4 linked regions of the Homo sapiens genome follow. The protein of the gene in region 4 interacts with the protein of the main gene of each other region in a pairwise test. Each region holds a gene or a part of one and is shown on either strand. Other genes may lie near its edges. The genes, in order: SPATC1L, CCDC102B, CCDC57 and ARL4A.

Region 1 (7,605 bases), on a different chromosome or scaffold from region 4:
GATGCCATGGATTCCCCTCTTTGCTTCCAGACACGCTCGCTCTCAGGCTTGTCCATGGAGCTCCGAGCAGGGCCTGGGGCCTGGCTGCGGAGAGTGCCTCCTGCACACTGCGCCTGCTCAGAGTGCACATCTGAGGGTGGTGGCCAGCGTTTGAGAAGGACTCAGGAAGCAACCTCCCCCACCCCCAGCACAGGTGCTGGAGCGGCCCCTTGGTGAGTGGCAGAGCTGGCCTCCCGGGCATGGCTCGTGCTCGCAGACAGCAGTGTTCACGGGCACTGGCGAGGCTGCCTGCTCCATCGTCCAGGACCAGGCAGGCTGACCACGTCCTTTCCGGGCCCGGCCCGGTGGGAAGCTGAGGTTGGCCGTGGGAATCCCAGGCAGTGCTGGGTCAGGGACTCTGTCCTCTGCCCACCATCCCAACAAAAAGTCAAGGGTACATCTGTCAGCCCCACCCCAAATCACATGCAGGAACGGGTAATGTTTTTCCCAAACCTTTTAGAATAAAGCCTACTACTTTGCAGAAAGTGACCAAACCCTATATATATACTTTTTTCAGTAAAAAGCCACAGAAGGTCGGAGTCAATGCTATGTGGTGAGTGGATCATGGCTCCACACTCCCAGCCCCGCAGGGACAGGCGCCCACTTGTCCCTACCTGCTCCCCTGGCCGGTGGCTCTGAGGCCTCCCCAGGGTGGGACCTTCCCACCATGGGGCTGGCCTGGCTCTGGCCGGGGACATGAGTGGATGGGACACAGCACTCATGGGACTCGTGTGGCTGGTCTGACACCCCCCTCGCCCCTGACCCAGGAGAAGAGACACATGCAGCAGAGCAAACTGCCAGCCAGGACCAGCCTGGAAGAGCTGCCTGGGGCCCTGGAGGCCCACAAGCCTGCGCGCCACCTGCTCTACCCCTATGGGGACACTTCCATGACTGCAGCTGACCAGTCCACCTGCCAGCGGTTGACCACTCCCACTTCGCCAGCGACCGAAGGGGAGGGGAGGGGCCTCACCTGAGGGCAACAGCAGAACCCACCACCTGGTCTTGCTTTACTCAGACCTGAGGGTGTGAAAGGTGCCCGTGACCTCCCGCATCAGGGAGCTGGCCGCCACCCTCGACTCCCGGGGAGCAGGCGTCCCGCGACCCCCTCATCTACCAGGCCATCTGAGCTGGGCGGCGCCTCACCTCCGCTCCCGGGGGAGCCGGCCTCAGGGTAGGCATGCGCCCTGGGTGGGAGCAGGTCGTGGCCGCCGCCCTCCTGGCAGCTCTGGCTGAGCAGCCGCCGCAGCATCTGATTCTCCTTCAGGAGGCGCACCTGCTTCTTCAGGTCCGCGTTCTCGCTCAGGAGCCGGCTCATCAGCTCGCCGCCTTCAGCCATGGCGGGTGCGTCCCTCCTTGTCCCTCACGGCTCCTGCAGCCCCATGGAGGTGGGAGCCCAGAGCCCGCAGGCACCACAGAAACAGCCCAGGCACGGAGTTCCGTAGCCACCACCGCCTTCCACGCCTTGTGATGTCACTGCCCTAGTGATGAGGTGCCCAGCACCCTGCCTGCCCCCGCGATGGCTCATGGCCCCGTTGAGGCAGTGAAGCTGGAGGCCCGTGGCGTGCACAGGCAGCCACTCCCACATTATGACCAGGGCCCGAGAATGCCAAGGACATTAGGCAGCTACGGGATGTAGCGACTGTACTCCAAGAGGGGCGTCCAAGCCACTCCCCATTGAGCGGCCCAGCCAGGGTCGGGTGTCCACCCTGTGTGGTGTCCTCAAGCTGGGTGGGGACGCTGCCTTCACCCGAGTAACATGTGGGCTGCACTTCCCATAGGACCTGCCCAGGACACAGGGTTCCCAGTGCAGCTTCCTGTGGACCCTGGCACCCAGGGCAGCAACTGATGTGCAGGTGTTCATCAGGGTCCGTCCTTGGCACCCACACTTGAGGAGGGAGGGACTGGCAAGGGCAGTGGGAGGAGACCAGCATGTGGGGGAGACCAGCCTGGTGGGGAGACCAGCTTGTGGGGGAGACCAGTCTGCGGGGGAGACCAGCCTGGGGAGGAGACCAGCCTGCAGGGGAGACCAGCTTGCGGGGGAGACCAGCCTGCGGGGGAGACCAGCCTGGGCGGGGAGATCAGCCTGGGGGAGGAGACCAGCCTGGTGAGGAGACCAGCCTGGGGGAGGAGACCAGCCTTGTGGGGGAGACCAGCCTGCGGGGGAGACCAGCCTGGGCGGGGAGATCAGCCTGGGGGAGGAGACCAGCCTGGTGAGGAGACCAGCCTGGGGGAGGAGACCAGCTTGCGGGGGAGACCAGCCTGCGGGGGAGACCAGCCTGGGCGGGGAGATCAGCCTGGGGGAGGAGACCAGCCTGGTGAGGAGACCAGCCTGGGGGAGGAGACCAGCTTGCGGGGGAGACCAGCCTGCGGGGGAGACCAGCCTGGGCGGGGAGATCAGCCTGGGGGAGGAGACCAGCCTGGTGAGGAGACCAGCCTGGGGGAGGAGACCAGCCTTGTGGGGGAGACCAGCCTGGGGGAGGAGACCAGTCTTGCGGGGGAGACCAGCCTAGGGTGGGGAGACCAGCCTGAGGCAGCCCCACGATGGCCCCCACATGCTTTGGAGCACTGGGTGGCCCTGAGGGCTGGGCTGGAGGCCACCTACTGACCTCACTCCCTGATGAGAAGGGTCCAGCAGTGCATGTCCACCCCTCAGACCACGAGCGCCCGTGTCTAAGACACCAATTGTTCCTGACTGCACTGCTCCTGCCTGCACGTAACTGAGGACGCCCCCAACCCATGGCCACGGCCCCTCGGGCCGTCACACAGGGCTGCGGCTCATGGGGCCCTGCTAGAGCAGGCGTCTGTCCTCAGTCAGTGCGACCGACTTGAAACCCACCCTGACTCCCTGCTTCAATTACTTGGGAAAGTAAATCACCTCAGTGTTGTTTCTTGGCTCCGAGGGTCTTGTTTTATCAGCAGCCGGGATGCAACAGATGGGTCATCTCATCCTCATGGGAAGGGACGTACGGCAGAAAGCACAACCCAGTGGGCCGGCCACACCTCCAGCCCTGTGACGGGCACCCACCACCACCAACCCAGTGGGCCGGCCACACCTCCAGCCCTGTGACGGGCACCCACCACCACCAACCCAGTGGGCCGGCCACACCTCCAGCCCTGTGACGGGCACCCACCACCACCAACCCAGTGGGCCGGCCACACCTCCAGCCCTGTGACGGGCACCCACCACCACCAACCCAGTGGGCCGGCCACACCTCCAGCCCTGTGATGGGCACCCACCACCACCACCATCCCAGTGGGCCGGCCACACCTCCAGCCCTGTGACGGGCACTCAGGACCACCAAGGGCACTCAGGTGCAGATGCCCCTGGGAGAACACCACCTTCATTCAGCCCGGGCGGCCAGATTAGGGGAAGGTTGCTTCTAGGAGAGAAAGTCTTGAGTCAGGCTTTGTGGAGAAAGGAGGTTTCTACACCCCAAGCGTTCCTGACACAACCCAACCAGCCTGGTGTTGCACCACAGGGCTCACACCTCAGATCAAGACAACGGGGGCCCAGCCACAGCCCACTGACGAGGGCATGCAGGGCGTCCAGGATGCAGGGCAGAGAGAGAAGCGAGGGATGAGTCACGGATGCGCCCCCCGCTCTGAGCCCGACGGGGCCCTGAATGGCTTTTCCTGCCCTGGCTCCTCCCATCATATTTTAAATGCCGTCTTCCTCCCGCTCCAAGGAAACCTTCTCTTGACGTCAGGTACTCTCCAGCCACGGACCTATCAACATTCTGACAGTTTTCTGGTCTTGACACATTATCCTTTTAATATAGCGCTGGATTCAATTTATTAATATTTTAAGTATTTTTATGCTCACAGGGGAAGTCGATCTGAATCTCCTTTTCTTGTGATGTCTCGGTCTGGCTTTGGAACACTGGCCTTTTAAAATGAGCCGCAGAGATTCTGCGCCATTTTCTGGGTGTTCCTTCTTAAACGTCGGATAGAATTCATCTGTGAAGCTATCTAGAACTAGATTTCTTCTGGAAAAGTTTTAAATTTCTAAATCAATTTCTTAAATAGATACAACGCTACTTATATTTTATATTTTTCCCTCATGTGCGTTTTGCTGACAATTGTGGCTGTCAGGTAGTTTGTTGATAATAGGGGAGGCTGTGCATTTGTTGGGGCAGCGAGTGGGGAAATCTCTCTATCTTCCTCTCAATTTTGCTAAGAACCTAAAACTCCTCTTAAAAAAGTCTTGAAAAAGACAAAAGCACGAAGGAAACCAGAGAATATTTCAAGTTGAATGAGAATAAAAACATGACATTAGAATTTGTGGGGTGTAGTTAAAGCTTGATGCCCGTGCTCCACAACCACAGGAAATGGACAAACCCTACCAAAGTTATCAAAAGAGAAGGACACCCCATCTGTAGAAAACAGTCAGAAGATTAGGCAGATGTGGTGGTGCGTGTCTGTTGTCCCAGCTACTCGGAACACTGAGGTGGGAGGATTGCTTGAGCCTGGGAGGTCGAGGCTACAGTGAACTGTGGTTGCGCGGCTGTGCTCTAACTTGCGTGACAAAGTGAGACCCTGTCTCAATAAAATACTTTAATTAATGAAACTGAAACTTTCTGCTCTGCAAAGAATGTCAAGAAAATGAAAAGACAAGTCAGAGACTGGGAGAATATTTTTGAAACGTCCTGCAGCAAAGTGGTACTTTTTTGAGACAAGGTCTTGCTCTATTGCCCAGGCTGAAGGGCAAGTGGCATGATCACGGCTCACTGCAGCCTCAAATGCCTGGGCTCAAGAGATCCTCCTGCCTCAGCCTCCCAAGCAGCTGGGATTACAGGCGCGCACACCCACACTCAGTCCCAGAGTGGTCCATTTGTTACAGCTGATGAATCTACATGGACACATCGTCACCACCCAAAGCCCACAGTTTACAATGGGGCTCACTCTTGATGCTGCACATTCTCTGGCTTTGGACAAATGTATAATGACCTGTATCCACCATCACAGTGTCAGGCCAGAGCAGTTTCGCTACGCCTATAGTCCCAGCTACTCAGGAGGCTGAGGCAGGAGAATGGCGTGAACCCGGGAGGCAGAGCTTGCAGTGAGCCAAGATCGCGCCACTGCACTCCGGCCTGGGCGAAAGAGCGAGACTCCGTATCAAAAAAAAAAGAAAAGGCTGAAGACCTTAACAGACACCGCACCAAAGAAGATACACAGTTGTTAAATAAGCATATGAAAAGATGTTCCACATCATATGTCATCAGGGGAATGCAGATTAAAACTACCAATATACCTTTTAGAGTGGCCAAAATCCAGAACACTGCCACCACCAAATGCTGCTGAGGACGTGGAGTAACAGGAACTCATTGTTGGTGGGAATGCAAATTGGCACAGCCACTTTTGTTTGTTTGATTTCTTTTTTGTCTTTTTTGAGACGAAGTCTCTCTCTGTCACCCAGGCTGGAGTGCAGTGGCACAATCTCGGCTCACTGCAAGCTCTGCCTCCCGGGTTCACGCCATTCTCCTGCCTCAGCCTCCCGAGTAGCTGGGACTACAGGCGCCTGCCACCGTGCCCGGCTAATTTTTTTTATTTTTAGTAGAGACGGGGTTTCACCGTGTTAGCCAGGATGGTCTTTATCTCCTGACCTTGTGATCCGCCCACCTCGGCCTCCCAAAGTGCTGGGATTACAGGCGTGAGCCACCGCACCCGGCCCCTTCAGCCCATTTTTTAACCAGGTTGTTTTATTGTTGGGTTTGAAGAGCTCTTTTGGATACTGATCCTTTGTCTTTTTCAAATATATTCTCCCAGTCTCTGACTTGTCTTTTCATTTTCTTGACATTCTTTGCAGAGCAGAAAGTTTCAGTTTCATTAATTATTTTATTGAGACAGGGTCTCACTTTGTCACGCAAGTTAAGAGCACAGCCGCGCAACCACAGTTCACTGTAGCCTCGGCCTCCCAGGCTCAAGCAATCCTCCCACCTCAGTGTTCCGAGTAGCTGGGACAACGGGCACGCACCACCACACCTGCCTAATCTTCTGACTGTTTTGTACAGATGGGGTTTCACTGTTATCCAGGCTGGTCTCCAACTCCTGAGCCCAAGTGACCCTCCCACCTTGGCCCCTCAAAGTGCTGGGACTACAGGCATGAGCCAGAAATGTATTATTTTAATGAAGCCCAACCTATTAATGTTTTCTTTCGAGGATCATGCCTTTGGTGTCATATCTAAAGAGTTACTGCCAAACCCAAGGTCACCTAGATTTCCTCCTATGTGATGTTCTAGGGGTTTTATAGTTTTGTTTTACATTTAGGTCTCTGATTGATCTTGAGTATGTCTAGATGTGAAGGGTATGTCAAGGTTCATTTTTTTTTTACAAATGGAGTTTGTTTCAGCATTTGTTGAAGGCTGTCCTTTCTCCATTGAACTGCCTTTGCTCCTTTGCCACTGATTTTCAATTCAGTTTAACTCCACTGTGGTGGGGGAGGATGCTGTGTGTGACTTCCGTCCTTGCTAACATACTGAGACTCACCTGGTGAGCCAGCTGTGGTCTACCTTAGCACATGGGCCACGAGCTCTTGCAAAGCCGTGTGCTTCAGCAGTGTTAGGTGAAGCATCCTCTAAAGACCGCTCGCTTGTGTTGGCTGATGTTCAAATCTCTGTCCTTACAGATCTCATGTCTGTCAGTTACAAAGTACGGAAAGCACCCGTTAAAATTCTGTTTTTATCTCATTCTCTTCAATTCTGCCATTTTGCTTCATGTATTTTGAAGCTGTTATTTAGTGCATATACATTTGGGGTTGTTATGTCTTGATAAATCGATCTTATCATTATTGTCTCTTTACTCATTTCTGGTACCGTTCCTTGTCCTACCGTCTATGTTGATATTAAAAATATCAAGAGTCTGAAACTTTACATCATAGTGAACAAAGAAAACCTAATATGATGCCAGGGAAAAGATTTCAGGATGTTCAAAATCTGTTCCTGATAAAAATAATCTGAATTCAAAAATCTTTCATGACTGATTTTTAATCACACTGAGGCAAATATCCCCCTCAGACAGAGGCTGCACCGGTACAGCTGCCATCTCCTCTTGGTGGTGTCCTTTGTCAAGAGCATGTCAGGGTGATGAGTCATCTGGGACAGGTCACCCTCCCAGCACCGAGAAGCCGACGGGGGAGGAACAGACTCCTCTGCATTGTGATCCAATTGTGAACAAAAAGTCCTCTTCGTGGAACAGGAAAAATACACTCCCTCTAAACAATGGATTGAACACAGATGTGATTTCTAAAGAAGACTGAAGGCAGGGATACTGACACTGAAGTCCTGCCTGTGTAATAACACCGAAGAGGGCAGGGAATCGCTGCGTCCTGTGACTTGAAGGCCACTGTGAAGGAAAACAATGCAGTGAAAGAAAGTTCCTCCTATGTGGACATTGTATCACGTTTATTTATCTTCCTGGATATGCTTATGGCCTTTAAAACATATTAAAATAGGCTATGCTATTATCTCTTAAAATATCTGTTTTCCCTCAGGTAACTGGAGACGCACCCTGCTACTCCTCACGTCACTCTTGTTCCCTAAACCAGGCTGGGCCTCCCACTCGCCCCAC
Region 2 (2,645 bases), on a different chromosome or scaffold from region 4:
GGATCTTGAGAGGAAGACGCCTTGCCAGTTGCCCCACACCCACTTGGGGCACAGCCACAGAAAAGCAGAGAAACATGGTCAGGCAAGGGGAACCCTAATATTTAGCTTCTCCAAACTGTATTTGGTTCTCATATGGGATTGTGACTGAGATGAGACCTTGACCTGCGGCCCATCCTCAAGGCTCCATCTGGATGAATTGCTCAGTCAGTTGGTTGACAGGGGATATGATGGGATAGAGGAGGTCATACCAGAAAGCACTGAGATGGATCCAGTTCACAGGAGGAGTGTTAAGCAAAGAGAAGGAAGTTCACATTTAAGCATCAGAACCCAGCAAGAGTACCCAGCGACAAGATAGATTTCATTACTACACAGCCTAGCAAACACACACCAGTGCGCACTTGAAGATCGGGCCTCTTTGCCCCTCAGTGCTGCGTTCCTATTAGTCATACAATCCCCCATGTTTGGGAGAGAAACAGGGAAAAAGTGAAGACTCAGTGAATGACAAAGGCTTTTACAATGAGAGACTCTGATAAAAGTGGTCTTTATTCAATAATGAATTAGTAAGATTTCATTTTTTTTTGGCTAATCAATGGAGGGGGAGATGAGTAAAACCAGTATGTTATTGACTGAGTTAAATCTTACAAGTTGCCTTCAGTTGAAAATAGGTATGGAAAATTATAAGTGTCTTTTTGTTCAAAATAACATTTTACCTTAAAAACTAAACTTAAATATGAAGCAATAAACTATAATGTACATAAAAGTTTTAAAGAAATATTCACATAACCACAATTTCCTAATTTTCTCTATTCCCACTACTCAGAGGGAAACCACAGCTTAATTTTGGCCTGATTTCTACCTAGATGCTACTTTGCAATGCTGATGCCTTTCCATGATTTTACTGTAGAAATGTCTATCCAGATAAAAGTCAAAAGTCCTTTTAGTTTCTCAGCGATGCTTACAGCCTGTCTTAGATTCAATCACTGGTTATCTGTTACTTTAAAATACAAAACACTTTTTTCTGATTCATCTGCTCACTTCTGTTTTATACAAAGATTAGAAATGACTTATAAAATTATATAAGAAATGTATTGTTACACCTCTAGAATGATTCATTTTTGTTAATACAACCTGCCATCCCCACCACATAGACAACACGTACATAAAAGTTTACCAATTATTTAAACAAACCAGTACTTTATACTTAAAGTCAATGGTTTTCTTATTAATGACCCAGCGTCTTGTATGGTTTTCAACTTACTTTTTCTTACCGATATTATAACTCTTTCAGATTTTATGTAAAAAGTATTCTGAAAGCCCTTTTTGACTTTCAAAATATTTACACATCTTAGAATTAAAGTTGTTTTTAAATGACATTTAAATTGTCTTTTTGAGAATATGCAGTATCTGTTAGGCAAAAATTAGAAGAAGTGAAGAAGCCCATTAATTTGTGTATTGTCTACGTTTTTTTCATTAATATTTCTAGTTAATAAAAACAATTTTACTGATATTTAAGAAAAGGATATGGAAATGTCTTTAAGGCCCTAATCTTTAATTCAGCATATTTTGTGAAAAAATTACCAGTTTTGCAAGTGCCTGAGTTCAGTCTCTAAGTTTTCATTTCTTTCTTTCTCTTCATCCAGAGACCTCTGGAGCTTACGGATCTGATTCAGGGAATCATCAAGCTGAAAGCGAAGTAGAAAATGCTTTAGTTAGGTTCAAGTGTTCTATAGTACATCATGGTGGCTATAGTAAATAACATCTTATCATATTCTTAAAAATTGCTAAGAGAATAGATTGTAAGTATTCTCACCACAAAACTATAAGTATTTGAAATAGTACATATATTAAGTAGCTTGATTAGCTAGTCTACAATGTACACATTTAGAAAAACATCATGTTGTATATCATAAATATGTACAAATTTTACTTGTCAATTTAAAAATAAAATTTAAATTGAAAAACATGAGGATCCATTCTATATAAGACACAGCTTTCTATCTCCATCTTAATAAGAAAAGCTCTTAATGAAAAAAAAAAGTAGTTGAAATAAAGTAACTCTTTAAAAACAAGGTATATGTTTGTATGACAGTAACTTACCAGTAGTGTATGTGTGAGTTTCTTTTGTATATGTGCATGAATAAATGAAAATATTCATTTATTTTAATAGAGTTAATGTACATATTCAGTAATAAACCTCAAAATGATCTCTGAAATATTTGACAAAATCCTTTCTATGTAGCCACTCTTCTCCCATTTCCCCTCTTGCCTCCCCTAGCTATAAGTCACTGAACTATAACTTGTGTTTTTTATTCCCATGGCTTTGAACAAAATACACGTGTATGTATACATATTCACATATACATATGCTAAGTGTATATATATATATATGTGAAATATATTTATATATATTATTGAAAATGTATCATTTTAATTGTTTTAATTAAAAAAGGTATTTCATGCTATATGTAATATTCTTGCTTTTTAAATCCAACAGCTAAGACTCATCTACAGTAATGTTTCATCTGTGGTCTCTTTGTCCTCTCTATTATAGCACTGCATTACTATGCCATGACATATATACCTACCCTCCTTTCCATGAGTATTTATATTGTCTCCAGCCCTGTGATGCTCTGAACATTCATATA
Region 3 (7,594 bases), on a different chromosome or scaffold from region 4:
CAGATATACTGAAATAGATTTGCATGTGTATAGTGTATAGAAACACGTTTCCTACTCTATCCATTAAGAAAGCCAAGAAGAAATGGCATCCCAGTAGCAATATGTCTATCTGGTACTGGGATCTTGGTTTCTAAACACTACCTTCTAAACTAAAAGGAACCAGGGCTCCTTGGAGAAATGACTGATTCTGGGATATGTCAAGGCAAGCATAAGATAAGCCTGAATTCTGTGATGCCAGAAAGAAAGAAAATGCTCCCAGAAGGTTGGGACGTGCTATAAGGACAGAGAGGCCAACTTGAAGGGGCTCCTAACACCTCAATCTGGATAATGTGAGCAACAAAGTACGTGATAGCGATGGGTTAGAATCCATGGAATAAAAAGATGCACTAACACCGAGACCGCGCCCCTGCAAGCCAGCCTGGGAAGAGATGGTTCTTTCTTATAGGAAAATCCCAACTAATAAATGTAGGAGTAATGGAAACAGAAAAATCATTTAACAAATAGCACATTAACAGTTATTTTGGGGAAACACTCATGGGTGCTAAAATTAGTGACAGAAGTATGGTTAGAAACAAGATCTTGCTGGGCGTTGTGGCTCAGGCCTGTAATCCCAGCACTTTCGGAGGCCAAGGCGGGCGGATCACTTGGGGTCAGCAGTTCGAGACCAGCCTGACCAACATGGTGAAACCCCGTCTCTACTAAAAATACAAAAAAAAAAAAAATAGCCGGGCATGGTGGCAGGCGCTGGTAATCCCAGCTGCTCAGGAGGCTGAGGCAGGACAATCACTTGAACCCGGGAGGCAGAGGTTGCAGTGAGCCGAGATCAAGCCACTGCACTCCAGCTTGGGCGAGAGAGAGAGAGACTCAGTCTCAAAAAAATAAAATTAATTAAAAAAAAAAAAAGGCCGGGCACGGTGGCTCACACCTGTAATCCTAGCACTTTGGGAGGCCAAGGTGGTGGATCACCTGAGGTCAGAAGTTTGAGACCAGCCTGGCCAACATGACGAAACCTCGTCTCTACTAAAAATACACAGATTAGCTGGGGGTGGTGGTGGGCGGCTGTAATCCCAGCTACTTGAGAGGCTGAGGCAGGAGAATCACTTCAACCCAGGAGGCAGAGGTTGCAGTGGGCCGAGATCGCGCCACTGAACTCCAGCCTGGGCGGCAAAGAGAGACTCCGTCTTAAAAAAAAAAAAAAAAGAAAAAAAAAAAAGAAAAAGAGAGAAAGAAAGAAACATCATCTTTTACATAGTGGCAAGATATTTCCCCACAAAATATTTATTATTTACAAAGGGAAGGACCCTAACTTTATGGACACACTTGGCAGACACCACCTCAGCCCCCAGGACGTGACTAGCACCAACAGCCAGGGGCATCCTGTGTCTCGTAAGACGCTGGGAAGGGCACAATTTCCCTGTTGAGGTTTTCTTGCCAAAAATCAGTAATATGAAATCAATTATGACAAAACATCAGAGAAATGCCCCCGAACTGGGGGGCATTTTATAAAATAGTGGACTCATCATTGGATCCTGGACCACGGTAAAGTCATCCATGAGGTAGCTGCTAAGCAAGAATAAATACTGGAGACCAGATCATGGGATGATACCAACATGAACGCCAGCGTCTACATGTTGCTGAATGAACTGTGGTTCTCTAAGAGGTCAGCATTCTAGGGGCTCTGGGCAAAAGGCACACGGGAAATCTGTGCTCCTTTTGTATCCTTTTTCTAAGTTACAGATAATTTTTTTTTTTTTTGAGACCGAGTTTCGCTCTTGTCTCCCAGACTGGAGTGCAATGGCGCGATCTTGGCTCTCCGCAACCTGCGCCTCTCGGTGTGGTACCCTACTTTGTTTTAACCTGACTGACTCTCTCTTAGCTGAGAGGGCCGGACAGACACCATTTTGGTTTCTTCGCTTGCAGCCCCTTGTCCCCGTCCCTTAAGGACATAACTGGGGCAAGCTGACTCCAAGCACATCCAGGAATGCGCTTACTGATAAAATACTGATAAGAAACTGGAGCAAGCTGTACCAGCAGCTCCTGGGAACGCGCTCGGTTGATGGTACCCAAAGCCCCTGCGTTTATCACTTTGTGATAATTTAAGCCCCTGTACCTGGAACTGTTTATTTTCCTGTAACTGTTTCTGTAACCATTTATCTTTTAACTTTTTGCCTATTCTGCTTCTGTAAAAAAATCGCTTCAGCTAGCCTCCCCTCCTCTATTTAGACCAAGGTATCAAAAGAAATCTAGCCCCTTCTTCGGGGCCGAGGGAATTTGCAGCTCTAGCAGTCTGTCAGTCGCTGGCAATACAGGACTCCTGAGTAGTCTCAGAGTGTGGCGTTCTCTCTATAACTCCCTCAGTTACAACATCGGGTTCAAGCGATTCTCCTGCTTCAGCCTCCGGAGTAGCTGGGATTACAGGCGTGCACCACCACGCCCAATAATTTTTGTATTTTTAGTAGAGAGGGGGTTTCACCATGTTGGCCAGGCTGGTCTCGAACTCCGGGCCTCAAGCAATCTGCCCGCCTCTGCCTCCCAAAGTGCTGGATTACAGGCGCGAACCACCGCCTCCGGCCTTTTTTTTTCCTCTCTTTTTTTTTTTTTTTTTTTAAACTCACAGACACTGTAAGGCTGCCTGGGCGCGGAGCCGTCCTTGCCGGCGGCGGAACCCGGGGAATTCTCCCGGGGCTGCGGGGCCCTGGTCGGCAGCGCCCACCGCCCCAGGTCACCCACGGGAGACCGAGGGAACGCTCCCGCTCCACGCGGCCGCAACCCCCGCCCCGCCCCGCCGCAGCCTCCGCGAGGGGATCCCCGGTCCGGGCCTGGCCGAGCTCTGAGGGTCGACCTCGCGCTCCAGGTCCCCACCAAAGCGCTGCGTCCGACAGGACGGCAGCTGCTGGGGTTTTCTACAGGAAGAGTGGTCGGAGCGGCGCCCCCCACGCCTCCCACGCCTCCCACGCCGCCCGCCCGCACCTCACCCTAACGCCCGCCAGCAGCGCTGGCCAGGTCCCGCCGCGTTGCCACAGCGACCGGGTCAGTCGGCCGCGTCCGGCTGCGCTCGGTGCAGCGCTCGGGTCCCGCCGACAGGAAACGGGGTCCCTGGCGCTAGGTTCCGGCCCCTCCCGCCCCGCCGGGTTCCGCGCTGCGCCCGGGTCCGAGGGGCGCCCCGGCCGACCCGACCACCGCCGCAGATCGAAGGAGGGAGCCCGGCCTCCTCACCGGTCAGCGGGGCGACTCCGGACGGGGCTCCGGGCTATGGGGACGGCGGGTTCCGCCGCGCGAGGCGCCCCCACCTTCGCCGCCCCCGGCCCGGCCGAGGGTCCCCAGGCGCCCGCTTCCTGAGGCCGCCCGGCTCGCGGTCCCGAAGGGTTGACTTGAGCTTTTGCCCTGAGATGAAGGGAGCACGGGGCGGCCGAGGCTGCCCGTGGGGGTCTGTTCGGGCCGGGGGCGCCACGAAGTCCTGCCTAAGGGTCGGCTGCGGCCACCGGGGCACGAGTTCCCGGCGCTGCCCACGGGCTCGGAGACCGGCGGGGCCCAGGGGCCGTGCGCGCGGTCGCTCAGACCCTGATTAGGGAACTGGGGGAAGGAGGGGGGTCGGGACCCACCGAGGCCCGAAGTCGCCCCCACCATCCTGTGGGAACAACATCCTCAGGCACAGCCATTCCCAACCATTCACATCCTCAGAAAAAGGCACGTGTCCGTATCCATCTGCGGATGGATGAACAGAGCCCGGCCCCGGGACAGAGCAGCCTGGCTCACCCGAACCCTCAGCCCGCAATTCTGCGTGGGAGTGGAGGGGGTGTTTGGTGTCTGGGAATTCCCCTGGTGGGGCAATAAGCCAGGGGTCTGGTGTCATCCTCCACCCACATTGTTAACACTGGATCACTCCTCTCCGTGCCGTGCCTGCAGCCCAGGCACCCTGCAGCCTGTCCTCCCCGAACCATGCGTCCTGGTAGAGCTGTCTCCCTCGCCCACAGTCCTCAGTCCCGCCTCACACACCAAACCCTCTTCTGCCTCAGGTCCTTTGCGCCAGTTGCCTCTGCCTAGACTTGGTTCCCTGGATGCCCCCTCCCCACCCCATGTGTATGTCCGGCTCCCTGGACCCACCCCCCACACTGTGTGTCTAGCCCCCTGGACCCACCCCCCACTCTGTGTCTAGTCCCCTGGACTCCCCTCCCCACCCCCTGTGTCTAGCTCCCTGGACCCCCAACCTGGCCCATGTGTCCAACTCCCAGGACCCCCCCACCCTGTGTCCAGCTCCCTGGTTTCCCCCACCACCCCATGTGTTTGGCTCCCTGTCCTGCTGCCTTCTCAGTGCTTGTGCACCCCCAGCCTCATCAGACTTGTCACTCTATTAGAACAGGATGTAGGGCCTGGACTGTTGGCTCCCTGCTACCCCCACCCACAGGACAGTGCTGGGGTTGACCCGACTTTGGCTGCACATTTGACTGGCCCCTGGATCAGCTCTAGGACTAGATGTACCCAAAAGGATGCCCACATCCTTGCCTCAGCTCCTGCCTCTGCCCACCCAGAGAGCTGCCTTGCCCCCATGTCCACGATGCAGCCACCAGGCCTGGGTAAGCGTGGGTGTCCGAGACGGGCTGGGACACCCAGAAGAGGAGCCAGGACTTGCTTGGTCTGTATCCCGGCTCTGCATGCCTCAGTGTCCCTGCCTGTAAAGTGGGATCTATGGGAACCCATGTGTGGGCCGGGCACAGTGCTCACACCTGTGAACCCAGCACCTTGGGAGGCCAAAGGGAGGATCCTTTGAGCTCGGGAGACAGGGTCTCGCTCTGTTGCCCAGGCTGTAGTTCAGCGGCGTGATCTCAGCTCACTGCAGCCTCCGCCTCCCAGGTTCAAGCGATTCTCCTGCCTCAGCTTCCTGAGTAACTGGGATTACAGGCACTTGCCACCATGCCCAGCTAATTTTGTATTTTTAGTAGAGATGGGGTTTTGCCATGTTGGCCAGGCTGGTCTCAAACTCCTGACCTCAAGTGATCTGCCTGCCTCGGCCTCCCAAAGTGCTGTGATTACAGGTGTGAGTCATCATGCCTGGCCAAAAAAAATTTTTTTAAATTAACCGGGTGTGATGGCACATGCCTGTGGTCCCAGCTACCTGAGGCCAAGGTGGGAAGATCACTTGAACACAGCACTTCGAGGCCACAGTGAACTATGATCGCGCCACTGCACTCCAGCCTGGGTGACAGAGCAAGACCCTGTCTCCAAAAAAAACCCTCTAAACCTATGTGTTATGGATAGGGCCTCTAAGAAGGTAATTAAAGTTACGTGAGTCCTAAGGGTGGGACCCTGAACTGTTGTCCTTAAAAGAAGAGGAAGAGACACCAGGAGTGAGCACACAGAGGAGAGGCCACATGAGGACGCAGGGAGAGGGTGCCGTCTGCAAGCCATGGAGAGGCCTCAGGAGGAACCCACCCTGCCGGCAGCCTGATCCCTGACATCCAGACTCCGGAAGTGAGAAAATAAATGTCGTTTAAGCCGCCCAGGCTGTGGTGTTGAGTTATGCGGCCCTAGCAGGTCATTTGTCACGTCATGGGTATCTGGACCTGGAATCGTGTGCTGGCCCAAGTCAGCAGCATGGCACCCATGGTCACCCCTTCAGCTGAGCCACATGCCCGGGTGCCCCAGGGACAGAGCAGGGTGTGCCACGGGCACTGCCTGGTTCCTGAAGCTGTGGGGCAGGCCGGTCTGGCCCTCACAGCCTGTGCTCTGATTCGAGGGCCGTTCCGTTGGGTTGAGCTCCACGGTCCCAGAGCGCCCGCCGTCAGCTCAGGCCCGAGGCTACACCTACTGAATCCCCCCAGCACTGCAGCACCCCTCCCCTTCCTTCCCTGCCCCCCACACTGCAGCACCCCTCCCCCTCCTTCCCTGCCCCCCCCACACTGCAGAACCCCTCCCCCTCCTTCCCTGCCCAGCTCCCCAGCTGGGCTCCACCTGGGCACCCTCAGTGCGGGTGGCCGGGAGTTGGCTGAGGGAGACCACATTCCCTTCACTCCTGGCCTCCAGCACCCAGCAGGACTCACAGGTGGAAGGCAGACAGGGTGTGAGCCAGGGCCTGGGCCGCCAAAACAAAGAACCCCAAACTGGTCCTTTCTTCTTTCCCAGTTCAGGAAAGCTGAGGATGTCGGCCGGGCCATGGCCCCTCCAAAAGCCCTATGGGAGAATCCTTCCCACCTTGGCCTCAGGTAGCTGGGACCACAGGCACCTAACCCTTCCAGCCTCGGCACCCTTGGCTGCAGCCACATCGCCCCCTCCCGCCCCTATATCCACCATCATGCGGCTTCTCCTGTGTGTCTGTCTCCATGTGCTGCCCTTCTTAGGACGCCATCACGTTGGAGCAGGACCACCCAGCCAATTACGTCGGCGATGACCCTATTCCCAAGCCGCATTCTAATGGACCAGCGGCTACGACTGGATCCTATTTCTTTGGGGACCACCATTCAGCCCTGGACCTGTGTGGGGCTGACAGCCCCCAGTGCTGGCTCCCCCAGGCCGTCCTGCAACCACCCTCATCATGCCACGACAGTGGAGGCCGAGGGCCCTTCCTGGTGCCCCGGTGAGTGACACGGCCAGGACCTGACCCTCCCATGCCTCTGTGGCAGAGCAAGGTGGGTGGGGAACTGGCTGTCCTGCTCCCAGCTGCGTTCCTGGCACCTATGCCCCACCCACCCAGACACACATCTGGGTGTCAGGCAGCCGCATGTCACTGAGTGGGGTAAACAAGGGAGGGTGAGAGGAAGGTCAGAAGGCCATGGCTGAGGGCGTAAGTGTGGGCTGAGGCTCTTGCTTCCCAGAACACAGACTGACCTTGGTGGCAGACCTCACCATGGGAGCCCCCAAAAGCTGCTTGCTTGAGGCCTCCAGGCCTCTTGCAGGGCCCTAAAAGCACAGGGATCCAGGACAAGAGGTGCGGGGGCCCCCGCCTGGGCACCAGCCTGCATGGGCCAGAGCAAGCCACTTCCTCTCAGGTTTGGGGAATGCCCACGTCAGACTTGCAGAGGCAACTTCTCCATCTGTCTGGCTCACAGGCCCTGTGGCAGGAGAGGAGCCAAGAAATGAAAGGGCCCGGTGGGTGTGGGCGGGCCCTGCTCCGATCTGGATCTGGCCAGTGCCTGTGGCACGCCCTGCTCTGTCCCTGGGGCACCCGGGCGTGTGGCTCAGCTGAAAGGGTGACCATGGGCACCATTTGCCTGGCTCCCAGGTCCTGAGGCCAGAGAGGAGCCAAGAAATGAAAGGGCCTGGTGGGTGTGAGTGGGCCTCAGTGTCTGGCTGCTCCAGGAGGAGGGGGGTGGGCACTGACTCCTGCCTGAGGGCTGGAGGCAGGGAGGCTCCTCTGGACAGGAAGACCCTCCAGGAACAGACCAGCAAGACTGGCACTGTCCAGATGGGACCAGGAGCCGGACAGCGGCGTCAGACATGCCCCACAGCGGCCGTGACCACAGCCACTTCCTGGAGGTCAAGACCTGGAGGCAGGGCCAGTGCTGCCAGGGATCCTGGTGTGGACACGGGCAGGACCAGGGGATGCTCCCTCGAGGCTGGTGTGGAACAGGCCGTGCTGCCCAGTGGGTGGGCACCCAAG
Region 4 (6,997 bases):
GAAGGGAGAAAAAAAAAAAAACAGCCTTCAATGCCTGTCACATCTAAGCAGATCTGAACTACTATGGGACTAAATAGCCTAGCTGGTCAATTGTTTTTACACATCTGATTAAAAGCTTCAGCAAAAGTGGAAATACATTAAAATTCAAAGTCAAATACTGTTCTCCTAGTGCCTCAAGTAGTTTATTGGTAGTTATTATCCACATTTCTATAAACATTCTAAGTGACCATCACTAGTGCAGGAATATTTAACATATGAAGGCTCCACATCAAGCTACTTCATTCATTTTGTGTGACACAAGAATCAAGGTTCCAAAAACTGTTATGCCACTGAAAAAAAAAAAAAACAAAAAAACAAAACCCAAAGCCAAAACAAATCCTGCTAGCAAAGTGCATTTCTTTTGGTGATTTTTCAGAACAGCTGTTGCTTTAGACATAAAAAATAAGCTGATTTAGTAAAATATGGTCACTGGAAGTAAGTGTCTGTAGATAAGAATTAGATAAAGGCCTTTCCTCCTTATAGAGCTTTTTATTCCAATGTAAACAGCACCAGTGAATTTTCATAAAACAGGTTTGTTATTTTCCCCTCATTTTCTATAATTGTAATTCTTATCTGCCATACTGTTACCATTTCTTCCTCTCTATAATCAGGACTGGACAGCCCATGTAACACTGTTCAATTTGTAAACAAAAAATTAAAGCTCGGAACACATACAGGTTATCTTTTACATTTTCATTCTACAGCGCATCAGGTATATTTATAAAGCTTTTGCTCTTCTCAACACACTACAAAAATATATAAAAACCACATTTGTTTTTAGCCAGCAAATATTAATAAAACAAATATCTTGTAACTGGAATATTTTAGAGACCACATATTTTAATTACATCCTCTTGACTAAATCGCCTTCTTCATAAATCCATATATGTATCCAGTGCATATTTATTAGTTTACATGCCCATATTTACTATGAATGAGTCAATCATTTTAGGTTCTTCAAGTGAAAGTGCTTCTGACAACAAACTATTCCTATAATAGCCCTAAATCCCCAAAAAAGTTGTTTTAAACCTGTGTAGAACGATGCATAGCTATTTCTAAAAAGTAAGACTACACACCAAAACATGCTTTGTCAGGAAAACTAATCCATGCACTTGAATATACCCCAAATATCTTATTTTTAATAAAGGTAGACCAACTTAAACATTGTCTAGAATTAAGCTATACTATTAAATTACTTGATTCCAGAAAGCGTCAAAAATCATTTGGCAGAAACTTAAAAAAGAAAATACTTACTCCTTGTCCCTTACTTCAAAAAAGGACTGGTTGGACCAATGTGATCAATATAACTGCATATATGTTAATCTACCTTAACATTTCCATCGATTAGCACTTGATCGTTACAAAGCCTTGTATGCAATTTTCTTGCAAAGGCTTCCCCCCGAAAGATGTAAGCACAAAACACTAGGCAGACACTCTTTAAAGTTTTATTTCACTAACTTCAGACCAAATTCCCACAACTGTGTTCTGGTCAATTTACTATCCTTGCTTGGCTTCCCCAAATGGTAGTACCAAAAGATTTGTGGGGTAGGGAGAAGAGACCACTTTAAGAAGCACTGCATTTACTCATCTTCCACAAGGCAACAGAGTTGGGCATCTGATTGTTCAACAAAACAAAGCTTTAATAGCATCCAGGAGGGCAGACAGGCAAACCACGCTGTAGACACTCTTCTATTTGTCAAAATCAGACCAGAGAAAACCTACTCCACACAGATATAATAGGTATTGATATTCATCTTTTCTTTTTCTGTTGCCGCAACATTTTTCTTCTTTTAATGATCATATCATGTAGTTTCTCAAGTCCTTCCTTTAGGCCATCTCCTATGATTGCACAGGTAGGCTGCAAATGCCAAGGAGTTGATGAGCTCAGTTCACCCATTGCTAACAATTTCTCAATTTCTGAAAGTGACAATGAGTTCCTCAAATCTTGTTTGTTAGCAACTATAAGTACAGGGACTCCCTGATTTTCTGATATCCTAGTTATTTTGTGAAGTTCAGTTTTGGCTTCTTCCATCCTTTCGACATCAACAGAGTCCACAACAAATACAATGCCATCTGTGCATCTGGTATATGACTTCCACAGTGGCCTTAATTTCTCCTGACCACCTACATCCCAGAAGTGAAAAGTGACTGTTTTAGAATTTCCCAAGGTTACCTTAATTTTCTCAGTGTTAAATCCTTTGGTAGGTACGGTATTTACAAATTCATTGAACTGCAGCCTGTATAAGACAGTTGTCTTTCCAGCACAGTCCAAACCCAGAATAACAATGTGGAAAGACTGAAATGAAGGCAGGTTGGACAGGATAGAAGTCTGGTCTGACAGCCCATTCCCCATTTCCAGGTGCAAATAAATGTCCCAAATTGAAATGCTTTTCTCTTCTTGGTTTACAACTTCTCTTGGTAGCTGATCCAGCTATAAGACTGCTGGGAGACGGAAGAAGGAATAAGTTATTCTCCCGAAATAATACATTAAAACAGGTTTGCTCTACTTTGCTAAAATAAACAACACGAAGAACTTACTATAACTTGCTGCGCTAAACAAACCAGACGAGATATGAAACGTACATGAAAACACACACAGTCCAAGACAAACGATGGAATAACAGTGATTGAAATTATCTGGTTTACTTAAATTGCAGTAATATGTACGTTTTTCTCCTGGGTCCCCAAACCTCAAAGACCTCATTCTGGAAAGAACCCAGTCACCAGTATCTGGTCTAAGTGGCCGTAACCACAAAGTGCCTATCTGGCAGAAAACTCATAGCAGATAGTCCTATCTTCGGAATCTAATTCCACATGCTTAACAGCATACCCAAGATCACTATTACCTCCTACCCCTTGCAAAATAACAACGTTCTCACCTCCCGATCTGGAGTCTGGGTCCAAATGAGAAAGCATTGGCAGGCGTTTCTACGCAGGGATAAGCACCCTTCCAGCTTAGCTCTCCAAGCAGCTCTGGCAGTTGCCGCACGAGAAACCTTGGACTCAGACTCCGACCACGCCCACTCCTCCCGGTCCACTCATGATCCCAAATCCCATTGGTCACCCGCATCAGGGAAGCCATGCAACTCCCGCCCCCGCTCCCTAATTGGTGAGGGTAACTGCCGCTCCCAGCGCGGCGGAGCTGAGCTCTCTCTCGGTCCACCGGCACCACCTGTTGCCCTTAAGTTAGAAAAGGCGGCGTTCCCAGAGGGAGCCGAGCAGCCGCTGCAGGTGAAGGGGAGCCTCGGGCGGTCAGGTCGCCGCCAGGCTGCCGGCTCCGTTCGGCCCGGCGCACCTGCAGCGCAGCCAGGGCGTCAAGCCAAGGCTCTCACATCCGGGGCCCGCAGTCACTGCCAACGCGTTAACCCTTTGTCCGCGGGCCCGAGGGTGCCGGCTGTTGCCGCGCGGGCCCCTGAGGCGCTAGAGATCCCACCTGGCGCGCCCGCCGGGATAAGCCCATCCTCCCCGAAGTGGGATCCCTTCACCCTGTCCCTCCGCACACGACCGGCTCTTCTCCCTCGGCAGGGCGTGGCCGCCCCGGCCGCCCACCCCGCCGCGGCTCACCTGACTAACCGTCCTTCCCTCTTCTTCATTCAGCGTCTCTCCCAGCCGCTGGGGAGGCGCGCTGATACCTGTTCCCTGGCACCAGGGAGGCGTGGGCGATGGCAGAGGACTGGGCGCCTGGCGGGCGCCGCGCGCCAGGCTGCCCTAACGGTGCTCGCCCGGCAGCTCCACGCGACAGTCCCCGCCCCCTGCCCGCGCGCCGCCCGGGCGCCGGCCTGTAGGGGGCGCGCAGGAGCCGCGTCTCCTAGCAACGCCAAAACAAGGTCGAGTTCGAATCGGCCTAGCGCTGGCTGCCCGCGAGGTCGGATGGGACTTCCGGCCTCACCCCTGAACGGTTGCTCCGGGTAGCTCTGTCTGCGGCGGCCCGCCAGCCTGGCACAGGCCCCGCCCGGCACCGCCTTCCCTCACGTCGTCTAGGGCGTCCGCGGGGCAGCAGCCACGTGATTCGCGGTTAGGGATTCCATAGTTCACGGGTTACGGCACACACGCGTTACGTATATATCGAGGTGACGTGGAAGTCCCCCAGTAGTTGACCTTAAACAGCCTGGGTTGACTGGCCTGGTAACTGCGCCTTCATTCGCTTTTTGTAGAGCAAATGAACGCGCTGTCTCACGTGTTTCTAGCAGCATCCCGGGGAACTGGCCACAGATAGAAATATTCCAGTTTGACACATAAGGAAATACACTCTGAAAGATGAAAGGGATGTTTCTTTTTTTCTTTTCTTTCAAATTGCTCACACAATTTTAATTGCAATAGATATAATTTCCAATATACCATTCAACTACACCATTTGTATGTGCTGGAGTGAGACAGGAGTATTTTGATTGAGTGTCCAGTTCTCTTTAAAACTAGCGTTTGCAGTTAACGACTTGGAAAATACAACACAAAAAGCCATCTAGCCTTTTTTTTTTTTTTAATCTCTATTTATCCCTTCAAAATTCCCTTTGTGGCCATATACATACTAGGTGGCTCTACCTGCAGAAAGCTGCATTTTCCAAGCAGCGGGAGAGTTTAATTCTTAACTTTCCTGTACTCCAGCCTCTGCTGGCTCCCTTGCATTTTTGTTTCCATCCTCTTCTTTGTCTTCTGTGCCTTTCGTTCTAGGTTAATCTGCGCAAGCTCTTCACTTTTGTCTGAATGTATTTTAGCGGTGAATTACTCCTTCTGGCTAAGAGCTTCACATCTTCAGTGTTAATGGTGGTGGTTTTCGCATGTCTTGCACACATTTCTAGATCTTGCACTGTCGAAAAGTCAGCTCCGAAATTGCTGCAATGATAAGTTTGCTGAACTGCATCTCTGCCCAATGCCACTTCCTCGCAAAGACAACCCACAGTGTAGTCCACTGCTGCCTCCTTTGGCCTCTGTTGGTAAGAAAATGGCTAAGAAAATCGCTGCTGCTCCTCCACCTCCACCTCCTCCTCCATCAGAACGGCGAGGCAAACGCGCAGAACAGAAAGGGGCTGTGGGGCAGCGGCCAGATTGGATTTTCTCTCCGCAGCCCCAAAGGGATGTTTCTAATGACCCAAGGAAAATTAGTGGTGGTCCTGGAACTGTTCATCTAAGTCTACTAGTCATCAAATGCAAAATGCTTTTCATTGGATGATTCTGACTAAATTTTGTCTTTGATCAATAAGTTCACAAATATTTATTGAACACCTAATAGGCAGTAGACACAATTCTGTGTGCTTGGGGATAAAATGGTGAGCAAAATACACTGTCCCTGCCCTTGTGGAATATTGGAGTCTCTATGGATGACTAAATTTATAAAATGTTTTCAGCGGTAATTTCAGGGTGCTTATGACAACCTGCAAAAGAAGTAATGACTTGAAGTTGTAGGAAAGCTTTAATCGACAAACATCTTTTTGGTGAAGGCTGTAAGACTGTAACTTGGAAGAACCTATATGGTACACTTTTTTAAAAGTGTGCTTTTTTTCTTTTTAAATATGGATTGGAGTTTCCTCAAGAAATATCCTAGTTTTTCTCAAGACCGCTATTGCCAGTGATATTTATTTCTTTTATGACTAGCACAGGAACATGCATACTTGTCATACCGGATTCTTTAAAAAGTCGAGACCAACCTGGCCAACGTGGGGAAACCCCATCTCTACGAAAAACACAAAAAATTAGCCAGGCGTGGTGGCGGGCGCCTGTAATCACAGCTACTCAGGAGACTGAAGCAGGAGAATCGCTCGAGCCCGGGAGGCGGAGGTTGCCGAGCCGAGATAGCGGCATTGCACTCCAGCCTGGGCAACAAGAGCGAAACTCCGTCTCAAAAACAACAAAAACAAAAACAAAAAACGACGTAAAAACCTAAGTTCTGAGCACAATGCATAATCTCAAGACAGCCACACTAATTTTGGGAATAAGAGCTAGAAATATCAAATGGCATATTCTATAAACATGAATCTATTATAAACTAAGGATTGCCTGATTAGTTATAATTGTGAAATCTCATTAGCCATTCACATAATCAGCTAATAATTGATAAAGGGCTTAGTGCAATAACCTATTTCCTTTTATTGGAAATTCAATAGGGATTCTTTATTAAACTGGGATAACTTGCAGATTCTCCTTAAGTCAAGAATTTAGAGCAAGAAAATTCTGTGGCCACCCTCTGTTTACAGTAGTTTTGAAATCTCTAAGTCCTTCCAGTGTTCCTTGCACAGTCTTCCCTGGAGCAAAAAGGGAAAAAAGGAAAACAAAAACACTGAGGGCTTCCAATCTTGCAGAATCGTCCTCACTGAATTGCACTTTAATGTTATACCCTAGGTTTTAAAACTACAGTAGTGGTTGGCAAACTGCAGCCTGTAGGTCAAATTCAGGAGATAAGAATGGTTTTTACAAGTTTAAAGGGCTGCAAGAGAATGGATAAGAAAAGAATATGCAATCAAGATCATCTATGCCCCCCACAACACACACATACAAAATAAATGTGCTCTCTGCCTCTGTAGAAAAATGTTTGGTGTGCCTGTTCTATATATAAAAACCATATGAAAACAGCAACAAATGATATTAAAAGCAATGGAATTTGTGGAACACAAGGTTCACTTTGTTGCCTGATCTTATAGAAGGCCCATTCAGAGCTTTTACTTACATTCTATGCCAGAAAAAAATTCCCTTTAGGGCCTGTAGCTTGTAAATAGTGCTCTGGGGTGCCTCAGAATTCCTAGGGGTTCTGTGGGATAGTTTAACTTTTTGAGGGAAACACAGTGACATCTGTTGGACCATATTAACAACTACAACTATCAAGTTTGGATCTATCAATTTCATAAATAGAAATGTTGGCTATTTATTTTGGCCTGAGGTACCATGAAAAAGTACTGAGGCACTAGGGCCTCTGCGAACCTCACCTTTAATTGTGGTTTTCCAAACTTGGCTAATGATGAGAATCACC

Evidence for each region.
Region 1: the proteins of ARL4A (region 4) and SPATC1L interact in binary tests that used the Homo sapiens proteins (3 or more experiments, as listed by UniProt).
Region 2: the proteins of ARL4A (region 4) and CCDC102B interact in binary tests that used the Homo sapiens proteins (3 or more experiments, as listed by UniProt).
Region 3: the proteins of ARL4A (region 4) and CCDC57 interact in binary tests that used the Homo sapiens proteins (3 or more experiments, as listed by UniProt).

The regions. Positions count from the first base shown.
Region 1 is NC_000021.9:46,181,442-46,189,046, forward strand, and holds the start of SPATC1L (speriolin-like protein), read right to left. Parts: upstream 3,019-7,605; 5' UTR 2,915-3,018; intron 2,334-2,914; 5' UTR 1,376-2,333; coding exon 1,183-1,375; intron 1-1,182.
Region 2 is NC_000018.10:69,053,067-69,055,711, reverse strand, and holds the end of CCDC102B (coiled-coil domain-containing protein 102B), read right to left. Parts: intron 1,683-2,645; coding exon 1,575-1,682; 3' UTR 523-1,574; downstream 1-522. UniProt on the Homo sapiens protein: During interphase, forms fibers at the proximal ends of centrioles to maintain centrosome cohesion. During mitosis, dissociates from the centrosome following phosphorylation to allow centrosome separation. Contributes to CROCC/rootletin filament formation.
Region 3 is NC_000017.11:82,209,810-82,217,403, forward strand, and holds the start of CCDC57 (coiled-coil domain-containing protein 57), read right to left. Parts: upstream 3,034-7,594; 5' UTR 2,976-3,033; intron 1-2,975. UniProt on the Homo sapiens protein: Pleiotropic regulator of centriole duplication, mitosis, and ciliogenesis. Critical interface between centrosome and microtubule-mediated cellular processes. Centriole duplication protein required for recruitment of CEP63, CEP152, and PLK4 to the centrosome.
Region 4 is NC_000007.14:12,683,650-12,690,646, reverse strand, and holds the start of ARL4A (ADP-ribosylation factor-like protein 4A), read right to left. Parts: upstream 3,015-6,997; 5' UTR 2,919-3,014; intron 2,482-2,918; 5' UTR 2,393-2,481; coding exon 1,790-2,392; 3' UTR 1-1,789. UniProt on the Homo sapiens protein: Small GTP-binding protein which cycles between an inactive GDP-bound and an active GTP-bound form, and the rate of cycling is regulated by guanine nucleotide exchange factors (GEF) and GTPase-activating proteins (GAP).